Linked DNA regions of Homo sapiens: all the other regions are linked to region 3. The links come from fine-mapping of genetic effects on gene expression. A gene starts in region 3. Each other region holds a variant in brackets. All regions are shown on one strand. Distances are from middle to middle.

Region 1 (5,223 bases), 25 kb after region 3:
CCTACAGCAGGACTGCCCTATGTTCTCAACTTAGCCCTGCCATTTACTTACTGCCTTAGGCAATTTTCTTAACCTTTCTGAGCCACAATTTTCTCATCGGTAATGCAGGAATAAAAATAATACCTAATTTGTGGAGGGTTTGTCAGAATTAAATTCATAGAAGGCACTCACAAATGGTATCCATTAAATCCTCCCTCTATGGACCTATAGGAAAGACTAAGCAGAAAAAAGAAAATGACCCAAAGCTCATCTGAACACCTGGAGAACAGGACAACTCACTAGAAAGTTGTTTACTAGTGAACTATGGTGTGGTCCCATCCCCACCGCCATAGTGCAGTCCCAGGTCTTGTGTCTGCTGTAGATTCTCCATGTTCCTAAAGGTCTTTTTTGACAACTGCACCGAATTATTTTTGGGAAATTGCCATGACATTTACCCAAGTTACTTTCTTTGCATCCCTGGGCTCAACCTGACTCTCGATTTCATGTGCTCAGAATCAGTACCCGTGCATTTGAGTTCATCTTTAGCATTGCACTTGGTGCTATGCCAGTTCTTCATCATTAGCCCATTCCCTTACAAACAGGGAGAAGGAATGGAGAACAAAGGGAACAGAAAGAGTGGTGGCAACCTATTCAGCCCAGCAGTCCAGCAGAAGACTGGCAGAGGCAAAATTAAGGACACCCTGTAGATTGATAGCAGAGGAAAAGGAGACAAAATTTTTAAAATGAGCAGCGGGACATCCAAGAAAGTGAAGCCACATCAGGGTGGGTTCCCCCAAGCGTAGATGTACGCTCTTGCCTCCACAACATAGACCACCATGTCATTAAACATCACACACCATCAGTGCCAACTGTGATCTGAAAATGGGTGGGCATCTGAGTCACATGATACCCAGTGTTCTGTATTCTTGGGTCCTTAAACTTAGGAAGGCTTTGCCTTGATCACTCGTTGTTCCCCACTTGTTGCTAAAATCAAAGCCAGGTTTCTCATCTAAAAGAATGCCTTCAGTTCAGATGCTACAGGCTTATCTCACGTGAATATCCTCTTCCCTTAGGTATTCGATGGTCTCAGATGCAGAAACAGAAAGCATTTTCATGGAACCCATTCACCTCTCCTCAGCCATTGCAGCCAAACAGATCATCAATGAAGGTAATGCAATCAAAAGCTGGGTGGAAGCAAAGTCCAGTGGTCATCTGGAGACCCTTAGAGGGGGGCCATTGGAAGACGTCAATGTGCCTCTCAGGTGCTGCCCATCACGTTAGGAAGAGCAGATCTGCAGAAGGCAGTTCTGCCAACCCTACCTCCTCAACTTTGATAGGATGGAAGTGGAAATAATTATGCATCAGTGTGAACAGGGACAACCAGAGAGGCAGCACCAATCTGTCCCTAGGGCCTCCTGCTCAATTTTTGGTTACCTCAGGGGTCCTGAGGTGGCTTATGGCAGAGGCACAGACCTGAGAGCCCGAGAAATGGCCAGAAGCATCCAGAGGGTTCTCTTCCAAGGGAGTCTAGACTTAGACCTGCACTTCCACCAGTGCTTAAAGATGCTTCAAACTGAAGGATGCATGGGGAGGAGGGAAAGGCTTGGGTGGGGAGCACCCAATATTCAATATGTTAATATTTACACAGTAAAATTTTGAAGCAGACAACATATAGTTATTTTTCACTCAAAGATACTTATCTGGATTAGATGAATTTTTTTCTAATCAATTTTAAGGAAATAATCTTTTGCAATTTCTTTCTTCCCCTTTCTTCTCCCTTCTCCCTGGGTAGCCTCACAACTCTGGTGAGATGGGGTGGAGTGGGATAAAGTGCACACTGATGAAGCAGGGCCCAGCTGGCCTTTGGGCTTAATCTCTCAACCACCGCTGGTGGCCACAATCCTTTCCTTGGTCTTTCATTATTAGAATCACATGCTACTCTTTGTCCATTCTAACTCTGGTACTGGTCCCCTGACCCATTTGGGTCTCCACCAGGGTCTCTAGAGGACATTTGGACCTCTTGCACACTTCACATAGAACCAGAAATTTGACTTGCTGTTGCTCACTGTTCTGGGCACTCTAGGAGGCCCCATCTTCTCAAAGACCCATCTGCTTTGGGGGATTTTTTTTCTTTTTCTTCCATACCTGGGGTCTCTGTTGTCTTGCTCCAAGATATCTTGTCCCAAGATATCTTGCCCACTAACCCAGGCAGTGTCTTCACCCTGGTCCAGTTCTCTCTGAATTGCTCCCAGCACCACTATAGCTCTAGAAAGTCTTTTCTTCCTCTTTTGTGGTTGGAAATTTCCCTAACCTTCCACTCTGCATCATCTCTGCTTTGTGCTTCATTCTGTGGACCATTCTCCATGTTTTGGTTCTTGATAAGTAAAAGTCCAGCTTTAGGAATTGAGGGGAGAAAAAAAATAAAAAACATTTTCTCTCTTTGAAAGCTTCACTTTCAAGTCTATAGAATGCTATGGACATTCAGTCTAGTTTGAAGCCAAAAGATGTGCAATGCCTTGTTTTATCCTGGCTCTTTTCTATTCTTCCCTTCTCTGGGGGCATCAAACCTAAGTTTCATTAGCCTTAGTGGCTGAAGGGCTATAGGGAGAGAAAAAACAATATATGCTCACTAGTGATTACAGGGGTAAAAATGTGTGCTGAAAACCTTCCGTTTTAATGAAAGTCTGCATATGCCACACATCCGAGAGTGTAGGGGAGAAATGTGTGGGCTTTACTTTCTGCTGAAGAAATGTCAGGTAATAGAAAGAAATTGATGCAGGGAGAGAGGCAAGCTCTACAGAGGCTGAAGTGTGAACCAGAGACCTAGTGAAAGCAGGAGTTGCCATCAGGGGTGAAGGGCTGGGACATTTGTTTTTAAATTGAAAAGAAAAGAAATGGAAACAACAACCTGCTAGATAAATAGCCGAGGAAGACAACACCGTGTATTTTAATGAGGTGTCAGGAGTCCCA[C/T]TTTTTATATGTAGTAAGGGAAAGACATCTAAGTAGACACGGGAAGGGGAGCGGACTGAATTTGCTATGAAAGACCCCAGGAGAGCCAGGGGAGAAAACTGGGTAGTGGAGAAAATAGGAACACTTCATCTATTTTTAAACAAAATAGAGCTCTGGGATTGCAGGAGTTTTCTTCTTTCTGCGTTTGAAACGGAGATCAGAGAACGTTTAGAGCTGAGCCCTGATGCAGGGATGTGGGGGTCCCTCAGGGGGGTTAGAGGAGGGAAGAGAGAAGGGAAATGAAATCCTGAGCCCTAGGCAGAACCCAAGGCTCCCTGGATTTGCAGTCCATGAGCAACAAGCCCTGCTTACAGACCCCTGGGAGGAGCAGATTCCACGAGGGGCTGGACCAAGTCTACCTTCCAAATGTGGCTGGACTCTCTGCAGCCCCCACCCAGAGACTGCCCATCAGGGAAGAGATGGTGCCATCAAGAGGCTATGGGGAACACAGAGGAAACATCTTTCCAGCTTCTTTTCTCTCTCTCTCTCTATTCAGTATTTTGGCTACCATGTGAGAGGAACGATTTTGTTCTTTGTTATTTTTGTCTAACTTAAAGAAAGAAAGCATCTTACATTTCCCCAAATTTGATAAACTGTGAGCAAATATATTATTAGAAGATAAAGATTCACCCCAGATGTGAGTGAATTGGGGTTTGAGTTCATCTGGAGTTTGAGCTTTTCTGACCTGTTGTCAGAAAGGCCCTGAGTCACGTTTTGAGATTAGAATGAGAGCTCATGGCCAACCTTTGCCACCTGTCTGTGGGCTGGGAGGCTGAGAATCATAGGTCCTTACATTCTAGTAGGGGGAAGAAGACAATACAAGAAATAAATCAGTAAATTAGGTGTATATTAGAAGGCAATATTGCATAAATTACTGCTGAAAGTTTTACTTTTCCCAGGGTTATTTGCAATCCATATGTAAAAGAGTCAAACTAACAGAGTGAATTATACTATGAATGAATGCCATTCACTCATTTGGTAAATACTTCTACTTTTTTTTTTTTGGTTTTTTTTTTTTTTTTTGAGACAGAGTTTCGTTCTTTTTGCCCAGGCTGGAATGCAATGGCATGCTCTCAGCTCACTGCAACCTCCATTTCCCAGGTTCAAGTGATTCTCCTGCCTCAGCCTCCCAAGTAGCTGGGATTACAGGCACTCTCCACCACGCTTGGCTAATTTTGTATTTTTGTAGGGACAGTGTTTCACCATGTTGGTCAGATTGGTCTTGAACTGCTGACCTCAGGTCATCTGCCCACCTTGGCCTCCCAAAGTGCTGGGGTTACAGACGTGAGCCACTACGCCTGGCTGGTAAACACTTCTGAGCATCCACTTTGTACTGGGCACTGTGGGAGTTATTAAGTATGAATCAAAGTACACCTAATACTTAAGGAACTTGGTCTAAAAAATTATCGACCAGCTTCAGAGAAGCATGGGAGGGAGTAAAAGAAATTGGATCCCCTTTACCCACATCTATACAGTCTTCTTGCTGACCCTGATTACAAGTGTTTGGGCCAGTGCAGCAGGTACCCTGGGCCCAATTAAAGTCCTTCCTGGGAGATCCTGCTGGCATTCAGTCCATGCCCAGAATCCTGGCAGCAAACTGGCCAAGAGCATGTTCTCCCCAGGAACAAGGAAGGCCATGATGTTCCTAACTCTCTGATGAGAATGCTGCCTGTCTCCTCTAGAACTCAAGCCACCGGGGGTCAGAGCAGACGCAGAGTGTCCAGGCATGCTGGAGTCTGCTGAACAGCTGCTGGTGGAGGACCTGTACAACCGCGTCAGGGAGAAGATGGATGACACCAGCCTCTATAATACGCCCTGTGTCCTGGACCTACAGCGGGCCCTGGTTCAGGATCGCCAAGAGGCGCCCTGGAATGAGGTGGATGAGGTCTGGCCCAATGTCTTCATAGCTGAGAAGTGAGTCTGACTGCTCTTCATGACCCTTTGTCCTAACCCTCTGGTTAGTGCCTGAGACAGACGAAACTCCCCCAACTTTCACCAAAGGCGCCCATAGGTCCATCCAGCACAATGAGGCTGCCTAGCCACTTACCCTGCCCCAGCCCAGAGAAAGGCCCCTCCATCCACCTGCATTCGGAGGTCTCCAGGCAAGATGCCGCCATGACTGCTTATCCTTTGCCCTCTTGCCAGGACTCTCTTGTCCCTCAAGAAGGCCTCTGGGCCTCCTTTCCTGCCACAGAGTCTTGCCGACTTCACCATCTCATGACATCTGTAGCTACC
Region 2 (5,223 bases), 30 kb before region 3:
TCCTGCAAGATTGCATCTCAAGATTTTCCTTCTCCGGATGTGCTGCTCAGTACACATCCTCAAATGTGATGTCCTTTCATCCTTCCAGCAATCCTCAATATTTCAATCTCCAATTCATGGAGTTAACTGGAGGCTTAAAGAAGTTAAGTGAACTGCTCAAGGTCACAAAATTAAGAAATTATAAAACAGGAACAAAAATCCTGTTTCAGGTCTAGAACTCCCTGGAGCCATTGATAATTTTCTTTTAAAAATTTGTGGCCGGGTACATTGGCTCACGCCTGTAATCCCAGCACCTTGGGAGGCCAAGGCGGGCAGATCACTTGAGGTCAGGAGTTCGAGACCAGCCTGACTAACACAGTGAAACCCCGTCTCTACTACAAATATAAAAATTAGCCGGGCATGGTGGTGTGCGCCTCTAGTCCCAGGTACTTGGGAGGCTGAGGCAAAAGAATCGCTTGAACCTGGGTGGTGGAGGTTACAGTGAGCTGAGATCGCACCACTGCACTCCAGCCTGAGTAACAAAGCGAGATTCCATCTCGAAAAAAATATGTATAAAAATAAAATTTTGTATGATAAAAGCAATGTATGCTCCTTATAATAATTTATAAATGATATAAAACTATTATTTCAATTCAATTCAATACAGAAAATCTTTAGCTGCTGATCACAGCTATAAACGAGATGAGGAGGGTCCCTGTCCTCTTGGTGTTTCCAGTCTCCCAAAGAAGACAGACATGAAACAATGATGGTTACAGTTCAAGATGGAGGTACTATCTGAGCTTATGGCAAGGGGTTTTAATCTCATCCAAAGGGCCAAGGAATGCCTCTTTAAAGAAGAGAGAACAAATAAAAATCATTCATAATTCCATCACCTATAAATAACACTTTGATTTGGTGCTATTTTCTTTCAGTCTTTTCACTTGTACTTTCTTCAAATTCTTCCCTTGACCCCCAGGACACTACTCTCTGGATGCTCATTCTTCATAAAATGTGTCCCCTTCTATCCTAGAATTCCACGCCTCAGTATGTTTTCTGGAACATTGTTTACATGTGATATTAACATGCGGCATGGAGAAGGAGTCCCTAAAAAAGCAAGTTTAGGAATCACTGAGTTAGGATTAAGTAATCTTTCTAAGGGCAGCACTTTCAGAGCTCCTACAATGCTGTTGAGCACTGGGAACTTCTGACAGCGGGGTGTGGTATTCATGCTCTCATTTGCTAAATGAATCGGATTTGTTATTTTTAAGAGGCATCTTGAAGGAACACACTTTAGGAAATGCTCTATGGCCCTGGGCATACTTAGGAGGTCTAGAGCTCATAACAGATCCCCACCACTTAAGAGTGTGAAGCTCGGACTCTGGATTTAGTGTAGGCAGCACACTGCAGACAGTCAGGACTTTTTTAGTTGTCAGAGTCCAGCTTTGAGCTCTAGGCCTTGTTTAGGGTGGGGAACATGGGGTTTCCTAGTCCAATGAGTCAGCGCTATCCTCCCCCAGTTCCCTGATGCAAACCGTGTGCACTGGAAGCTGCTGGGATGAACCAGTGCAGGTCTTGTGCCACAGGACCTTCTTTGATTCCGAGTTGGGGCTCCCAAGCCCCTTTTCCTTCGGAAAGGGACTAGTAATTTCTGATATCCGGAGAAAACTAATGTTTCCGCTGCAGTGGCGACACCTTGTGGTCAGAAAGGGGAATGCACAGGACGGTCATACGCTTCCCACCTTCCTCTGCTCCAGCTGTGGAGAGATTCCCCTCAAGAGAACCTCCTGTCTCACCAAGACGCTAATGTCACGTTGACAAGACCTAACGTTTCCGCATCCCCCCAACCCCTACCCAATCCTGTAGCTTGTCGACAAGCCCCTGCTGCCACCTCTCTCTCACAAAGGGCCCTCACGATCCTCCTTGGACTGGTCCCCACCCTTCACAACCGCCTCCCCTTAAGTGCTCCAGGCCCCAGAACTACCCCCTCCCCCACTTCCTTGATATCCAAATTCCTGTTTCTTCAGTGCATGAAACTCAGCTTCCTGGGACACAGCTTACAAAGTCTGTTCAGAGCTATTACACATGGGATCTCCTCTCATCCTCTTCACAGCTTTTGGGGAATCCCAGTTTTTTTCAAAGGGCAGTACTAAGGGTCCGAGAGGCTGTGAGTGACTCACAGCTCCAAAGTGGAGAAGTCAGGACTTCTTGTTTCCTGATTCTGGATTCCCTGTTCTTTTCACTGCTAGCTTGTTTCCACTGAGGGTTTAGTCAAAGGAATGAATCTCTAATGTTGGAAATTGTCTTCAGATGTAGGAGAGCAGAGGTACCCTCCTCTCCAAATCGTCCATGGTGGACTGAAATGTTTTAAAAGCCAGAAATAATTTGGGCTGACCCACAGAGGAAGAAGAATTAGCAGATTCTCTCTATTTATTTTTTGTTTGTTTGTTTTGTGTTTTTAAGATAAGATCTGGCTCTAGTGCCCAGGCTGCAGTGGCACCATCTTGGCTCACTGCAACCTCTGCCTTCCAGGCCCAAGGATCTTCCCACCTCAGCCTCCCAAGTAGCTGGGACTACAGGCACACACCACCATGCCAGGCTAATTTTTGTATTTTTGG[T/C]AGAGACAGGGTTTCACCATGTTGCCCAGGTGGGTCTCGAACTCCTGTACTCAAGCGATCCACCCGCCTCAGCTTCTCAAAGTGCTGGGATTACAGGCATGAGCCACACTGCACCTGGCCAGAATTGGCAGATTCTCCAAGGCTCTGCAAAGCAGAGTGGAAACGAAGGCTTTGAGAACTCTGCCCTCACCCCGCAATGTCTCCAGATGCCAGGGCATGTTGTTATGGACATTAACCATATTCTTTTCTGTCACCTGCAGGTCCCCATTCTGACTCAGCAAATCTTAACTAGAGACAGGATAAAGCTTTCACAAATTAAAGCTTTCACAAATTAAAGAAGCAATTCTCTTTTCACCTCCTTTCCTGTCCTCAGGATTCTCCCTTTTGGATAATGAAAGAACTAAGTTTTGGCTTCTAACAACCAGAAGAGTCTCCCTGTGGAGGCAGGAGAGAACTGCAGCTGGGCTGCCCCTTTGTGAGGCTCCTCAGAAGGTACCCGTGGCTTACAGGGCAAAGACGAACCTCCCTAGCGTAACGCACAGGCTCTTCATGATTTCTCATCACTGTGTTTCTTAACAAGAGTATCTCCCACCATTCCTACACCTACACACGCACCCTACCCCTTAGCCACACCAGACAGTCATGATTCCTTCCTGTTCTCCATGCCAAGCCTCCTCATCCTTGAGGACCCAACTCAAATAACAGCTAATAACACTTAGCATTAAATGAGTGCTTACTGCCTACCAGGCACTAGTCTCAATGCTTCACATCTACTTTTATTTAATCTTCACAACCCTATGAAGTAAACACTAGCATTGTACCCATTTCATAGACATAGAACCTAAGGCACAAAGAAGCTGAGTCACTTGCCAAGGTCATACAGCTAACAAGTGTCCGAGCCAGGAGTCAAGCCCATGGCATGCTCTTAACCACTGTCGACTCCAATACCCACTCCTTGGAGAAACCTTCTTTGATCTTCTTATGCATCTTCTGTGTTACATCACCACTGGGTATAAAGCTATTATAGCATCTGCCACCTGTAACCTTCAGCTTTGGGTCTCCATATACACACTTTGCAGGAAAGAAGATCAGACACTACCAGTGTCCACAGCACACCTACCATGACCATGGCTGGAGTCACTAGACTATTCATAGGCCAGAGAGAGGAGGCCACAGAGCCCCCGGGGAGCTGCCAGGTGGTTTCAACAAAAATTCCAGACACACTCGATAAAAAGTTGCCAACCAGAAATACGTAAACACAACTGGAAGCTTGTTGAAAACCTACATTACATTGACCTATTTTAAGTTAGGTCGAGTGGATTCTACTAACTGTTTTTTTTTTTTTTTTTTTTTTTTTTTGAGACGGAGTCTCGCTCTGTTGCCCAGGCTGCAGGCTGGAGTGCGGTGGCGCGATCTCGGCTCACTGCAAGCTCCGCCTCCCAGGTTCACGCCATTCTCCTACCTCAGCCTCCGGAGTAGCTGGGACTACAGGCGTCCGCCACCACGTCCGGCTAATTTTTTGTATTTTTAGTAGAGACGGGGTTTCACCGTGTTAGCCAGGATGGTCTCGATCTCCTGACCTCGTGATCCGCCTGCCTCAGCCTCCCAAAGTGTCTACTAACTTTTTTAAGAAGTCGATTTGCCCCCAAACGAGTGATAAAGCTCTTCCTGGATTGAGTGCACCCCCAATGTGTGCATCCGTCCGGCTGGGCTTATCCAGGACACCAGATATTCTTCCCCCGGGTCCTCATCCCCACCCCCGGGGCACCTCATCTTCTCAGAAGAGCTGTGTGCCCTGCTGGCTTTGCTTTCCACCTCTGGCCTCCTTTTCCACCTACACTGAACTGAAAGACCTCCCAGAAGCTAAATCGGATGGACACCTTTCAGGCCTTGTCTTTCTTTTTAAAAAATATTTTATTTATTTTATTTTATTTTACTTTATTTTATTTTATTTTACTTTATTTTATTTTATTTTATTTGAGGCAGGGTCTCGCTCTGTCACCAAGGCTGGAGTGCAGTGGTGTGATCATGGCTCACTGCAGCCTCGACCTCCAGAGCTTAAGCAATCCTCCCACCTCAGCCTTCTGAGTAGCTGGGACTAAAGGGTGAGTCCTGCCATGCCCAGCTAATTTTTTAAAAATTTTGTTTGGAGACAGGGGTCTCACAATGTTGCCCAGACTGGTCTTGAACTCCTAGCCTCAAGTGATCCTCCTGCCTCAGCCTCCCAAAGTGCTGGGATTACAGGCATGAGCCACGGCACCCAGCAAGCCTTGTCTTTCTTGATCCTCAGGAGCAGGGGTGGCACTAGGGGCCCTGGGACTCCACCAGGGTATTTCCACACCCATTGGCTCTGGGTGTGGAAAGGATGGTAGGATTTTTATATAGCTCTTTCTTTTTTTTTTTTTTTTTTTTTCAGTTTCCTGACTGAAAGGTCCAATACCAAGCTGCCCAGTACAAAACTGGTCTCCTGGCAACTATAGCTGAATCCACCATCGCCTCCCCTAAGAAGGTGGGACCCTTACAGCAACATGGTGCTGTCGTTGTGTGGAGCCATAAAACGGTGGTGTGTCTGGGGCAGCGGGGGTCCGTGACGGCTGAGAGGGACCGGCCTGGATAAGGAATGGGAAAG
Region 3 (5,223 bases):
CATGGTGAAACCCTGTCTCTACTAAAAATACAAAAAATTAGCTGGGCATGGTGGTGCATGCCTGTAATCCCAGCTACTAGGGAGGCTGAGGCAGGAGAATTTCTTGAACCTGGGAGGCGGAGGTTGCAGTGAGCTGAGATCACACCACTGCACTCCAGCCTGAGCAAGCCAGACTCTGTCTCACACACACACACACACACACAAAGCAGACCAACTTTTAGTCGGTTTTATGATTGCTTTTAAACTCCCTACTTTAAAAGCACGGCCTTGCGTTTGTGCCCCCTGCATGGAACCTTATGAATAGCTTCTGCTTCCTCCAACACCACTTGAGTCTTGAGGCCCATTCATCAGTGCAGTGCTTCCCTGCCCAGGTCTTAGCAGAATCAATTCCTCGGAAAGGTCAGATGGGAAGAGAAAGAAGAGAAAAGCCCAGTAAGTCCTCTGGAACCCAAGTCAAGCTCCACCTCCTCCAGGAAGCCTTTCCTAATGTCCCTGCTCCTAACTGGGTCTCCCTTACCTGCGCAAAGGAAGAGGTGGTATCCTCTCATGAGGCATGGTGGGGAGGGCCGCCTGGTTGCTTTTGGTCGACCTTTGAAGGTCTTCCTTGCTCACCTGCAGTGGCAATGGCTATTTCACTATTTGGTAAACTCTGTTTATATACCTCAAGTCGACCACCAAGCCTGGCTTCTCCTGCCCCACTGCTCTGGCCCCTTCTTCCTCTTAATGTAAGATATGGAGGAAGAAAAGTTGGTGGGCACGTGATTCTGTGCTGGGCAGGCTGTGGTGGGAGGGATGGGGCGGAGGTAGAAGACACTTCATCAGTGTGTCTGAAAACATGCCCAAGACTCGTTCTGCTGGGTGAGTTCCCCAGGGGTCACTTGCCTTCTCATAGGAAGAAGCAAAATGTCCTGCTCCAGGCAATTCAGAGTTACGGCCACTTTTCCCTCCAAGCTGGGTGAGCATCTTGTTTTAAGATCGTTTTTCTAAGCCAAAATTTCTTATTTTTATTCATGCATGGGTCGCAGCCAGTCTACAAGTGTGGGGATATGTGTTGGGGGTTGGGGTGGTGCAGGCATGGAGGAGCTTCTGGCTTACCAGGAGAAGATGGGAGAATCACTGGCCCAGCCAGGGAAGGATGGGTATTTCCTTCAGCCTCCCTCTCTCAGGCCCTGGAGCATCCTCCCTGCCTGAATCTGATGGCTGAGATAGGCCCACTTATGACTAATCATTCCAGACTCCTCACTTCTATGGCACCTGCACAAACTATGTGCTCAGTAAAGAGTTGTTTGGATAAAGGAATGAGCCAACCAGTCCATCTTGGTGGATGATGAGGGGCTTTCTGCCTTCAGTCAGATGAACTTGAGCCAGCCTGAGAGAATGATCTTACCCAGATCTTCCTCCAAACCGTGTGATCCAGCCCTTCCCCAGCAGCAGGCTGCCCTTCCCTCGAGAGCCCCAAGGCCAGGTGTTGAGAGAAAAGCATGTCTAGGGCCTGGGAGAACCAGAATGAGCTGTAGGCCCCGTGGCCCGGGGCTTTCCTGTGTATGCTAAAAAGTGAGCTCTAAACCAGTCTCCTGGTTTCCACTTCCCCAGGCTTGGTGCTCCTGAGTTTCCTGGTATAGCTCTTCTCCTCCCCGTTGCAGCTGGATCCTGGAAGCCCTCAACAGTGTCTGAATTGCAAGGTGATGGCCAAATACACTAAACCAAAGATATTCCTAAACTTTGCCAAACCCTGCGTCTCTCAACTTCCTTCTCTCCATTCTATTTCCTTCCAATGCCCAGCAAAATGGTTGGTACCTTAATGCCAAGACTTTCATTCTAACCCTTAGACACTCCATAGGTCCCCACAGAACACTGTGCTATTAAGCACTTGATGTGGATTCAACCATATACTCATGAATGTCTGATTTTGTTCTGGGAGGTTTCCCTCCCAGAGGGAAATGCTCAGAGTCCCAGAATTTTCAATGACCAGGGTCCCAGAAGTGGCAAGGAGCTTTGGCCTTTGGAAAAGACCCATCTAGTTTGTTGTTTGTTTTTAGGGTTTGAATCTTCTCTTGCTCTGTGAATGATACGGGATAAGTTGCATTGTCTCTTCTGCCTCAGTTTCCTGTCTCTTTCTCTGGTTTTAACACAAACGTTAATATACTAGATAATGAACATATCTAGATCCACACATCCTGGATTTTCTAGGACAACTCCGATTTCAAATACTTTGTCCACATTGTCAAATCCTGTGTCTGATCCTATAATCTAATTTGGGATAAGAAAATATGGTCTTGAGAGTACTTTGAATTCTTCATTTCAGCAGTGGGCTAGAATGTTATTTACTAATATGTAAATAAAAACCATTCTGATTCTGGGCACTGGTCCGGAATGTGTAATTCTGGCCCAGCAGGAACGCAGCTGTGTTGCTGGAGGCCCTTCCTGGGAAGGCTCTGACAGAGCCTCTCCTTCAGCCCTAGGTCCCCATGTCTCACCCACCCCTGGGCACTGGAGAGAAAAGGGGCCTACTCACCTGCACAGAGTGTCCACAACACAGGCCACATCTTCCCCACCATGGTCTTGCTTCTTCTCTGCCCTAAACCTAACCTGTCACTGGCAGCCTCCAGACAGGTCTGAGCTGTCTGGTTAAAGCTACAGCAGCTTCTGGCCTGGCCCAACTGGAGGTCCCTGCAATTTTCCCTCTTCTCACCCACCTCTGCCCAGCCTCAGCTGGATTGGCAGGTGAGCTCCTCAGCTGGATTGGCAGGTGAGCTGGGGCTGGGCTCATGTGTCACCTACTCCAAAGGTCCCAAGAGGAGTCTTCCCTACTTCCCTCAAGTTCCCCTTAAACCAGCCACCTCCCCTGCCTTCTCCCTACTTAACAAGTGTACAAAGTCCTAGACTGCTCACAAAGGGGTAGGCCTCTCTTATAACTGACAGGAAATAAATAATAAAAAGGGAAATGCACTCAGAGGTAGGGTTCCAAGCTAGTAAAAGAAGGGTGTTGCCCATATTTGCTGAAACACTTCAAGACACAATGTGATCTGTTTCTCTACTTCTCTCCTCTTCTACAGCCTCCACCCCACAGTGCGCAAGAGATATAGTCATGAAGAAAACAGGAAGTCTCCCCCTTCAGAGTTTATATTCTGACTGGGAAAGTAGCAAGTTCATAAGTGAAAGAAGATCATCTTGGGGACATGTGACCAACTTGTCTCACTTTTCCTAGGACTGTCCTGGTTTTCAAACCAAAAGGAACCCCCTCAGTCCCAAGCAAATTTGGATGATGGTCACCCTACTGAAAGAATGATCAGTGGTGTGGGACCATAATTCTCCAGGAGCAGTGGCTGTTGCTGGTTTCTTCCATAGATATTTTAGATATATATACACTGTTCTGCAATGATTTATTCATTTTTCATTTAATGAAAGGTTTTAGAAAGCTTTCTGTATCGGTATGTATAGCACCACCACCATCATCTTTTTAAAATGGGGATGATATTTCACTGTATATGAGTGACATGATTTATTTAACCAAACTACTTTTAAGATTGTTTTTCCTCATCTTTCACAACTATGAAAAGATTGCAACCAATATCTATTATGTGTACGATATTTCACACGTGTTGTGATTATACATGTAAGATAAATTCTTAAAAGTAAAATTTCTGACTCACTGAAAGTTATGCATATTTGTAATTTTTATAGATATTGCTAAACTAGCTACCATGAGAATTTTACAGCCTACACTCCTATTAGCAGCATATAAGGATACCTATCTCCCCACACACTCACTAACACAGTTACCAAGTGTTTATGACACAGTTATCAAACTTTCTGCTCATCGCCAATCTAAGTGAACATGATATCCCATGTATATATAATTTACTTTTTAAAATTATTAGTGAAATTTGGCCAGGCGCGGTGGCTCACGCCTGTAATCACAGCACTTTGAGAGGCCAAGGTGGGCTGATCACGAGGTCAAGAGATCGAGGCCATCCTGGCTAACACGGTGAAACCCCGCCTCTACTAAAAATACAAAACATTAGCCAGGTGTGGTGGTGTGCGCCTGTAATCCCAGCTACTTGGGAGGCTGAGGCAGGAGAATGGTGAACTCGGGAGGCAGAGCTTGCAGTGAGCCAAGATGGTGCCACTGCACTCCAGCCTGGGCGACAGAGCAAGACTCTGTCTCAAAAAAAAAAATTATTAGTGAAATTGAAAATCTTTTAATATAGTTGCACATCATATATATTTTCTTTTCTGAGACTAGGTAGCTCATTTGCCCGTATTTCTTTTTTTAATAAATTTTTAAAAATATAGACACAGAATCTCGCTACGTTGACCAGGCTGGTCTTGAATTCCTGGGCTCAAGCAATCCTGCCTCAGTCTCCCAAAATGCTGGGATTACAGGCATGAGCCACCACGTCCAGCCGTTTGGCCATATTTCTATTGAGCTGTTGATCTTTAGCTTGTTGACTTCTAGCAGATCTTTGTATATTAGGGAAAGGAACTTTTGGATGTGATAAGCATTGCAAATATTTCCCCTAGCATTTCTTTGTGTTATGAATTCATAGTATCCTACATGACTTATTGTTATTAATCCTTTTGACTGCTAGGTTTGGTTGACATACAAAATTTGTTGTTTTCTGTTTATTACATTTCACTCAGGCACCTTGTTAATTCTCTTATTATATGTAATAATTGTTCAGCCCCAACATTTTATAATATCTTTGCCAAATTAGTCTTCCTAATTACTTGTCTGCTTGGGTCCTATCACTGACTCTGCAGAACCTAACAAATTAGCTTTTAAGGTATTCTAGCATTTGTTCTCAAACACAGTCTACCTTCCAGAATACGTAATTTATGCTCTGACCAAGTTAGACATATTTTCATACCCAGAACTCATACTTCCTTACCCCCAAAACTTTATTGATGCCACCCCCTCGGTAATTCCCTTCCCCTACTATATCTGCTATTATAATCTTACTTGTCCTTTAGAAGTCAGCTCATATATCACCACTGCTTCTATGAAGTCTTTCCTGATTTCTTCAGTCAGAAGGGCTCTTTCTCACCTTTGAACTCACACAGCACTCTGGATCTCTTTTAGGACACTAACTACATTCTCTCTTATGCTTGAGTTATTTTTGGTCTGTGTCTCATTCCTCCTAATAAACAGTGAGCTCATTCATTCAGCCATTTCTAATGATACGATATACCAGGCATCATTCCACCTAACTAGGAAGAAAG

Alleles and levels. Alleles are on the strand shown, and positions count from the first base shown. SD is a standard deviation of normalised expression in the study named. Not every link is listed here.
For the expression in cerebral cortex of the gene that starts at base 2,648 in region 3, allele T in region 2 goes with a higher level than allele C (moderate effect, 0.57 SD a copy in GTEx).

The links. PIP is the estimated chance that this variant, and not a neighbour inherited with it, causes the effect. A credible set is the group of variants that fine-mapping cannot tell apart.
Region 1: its variant is the best candidate, but not a certain one, in a credible set for the expression of GPA33 in lung (GTEx, PIP 0.52).
Region 2: its variant is the best candidate, but not a certain one, in a credible set for the expression of GPA33 in cerebral cortex (GTEx, PIP 0.67).

Annotation. Positions count from the first base shown.
Region 1 is chr1:167,112,658-167,117,880 of GRCh38, forward strand. It overlaps STYXL2 (serine/threonine/tyrosine interacting like 2), which reads left to right. Exons shown (of 6, transcript NM_001080426.3): 3 at 1,053-1,147; 4 at 4,671-4,902. Among named protein-coding and RNA genes, the nearest start is that of STYXL2, 21 kb to the left of the region's middle. The variant C/T (reference allele first, on the strand shown) is at 2,950.
Region 2 is chr1:167,057,661-167,062,883 of GRCh38, forward strand. All of the region lies in intron 4 of GPA33 (glycoprotein A33), which reads right to left. It overlaps GPA33-AS1 (GPA33 antisense RNA 1), which reads left to right. Exons shown (of 6, transcript XR_922249.3): 2 at 647-767; 3 at 2,968-3,086; 4 at 5,011-5,103. Among named protein-coding and RNA genes, the nearest start is that of GPA33-AS1, 7.6 kb to the left of the region's middle. The variant T/C (reference allele first, on the strand shown) is at 2,595.
Region 3 is chr1:167,087,730-167,092,952 of GRCh38, forward strand. It overlaps GPA33 (glycoprotein A33), which reads right to left and starts at 2,648. Exons shown (of 7, transcript NM_005814.3): 1 at 2,516-2,648. The coding sequence starts at 2,558. LOC124904451 (a long non-coding RNA gene) reads left to right here and starts at 871. Exons shown (of 3, transcript XR_007066717.1): 1 at 871-955; 2 at 1,594-1,682; 3 at 3,057-3,652. RefSeq lists an enhancer at 2,674-2,823.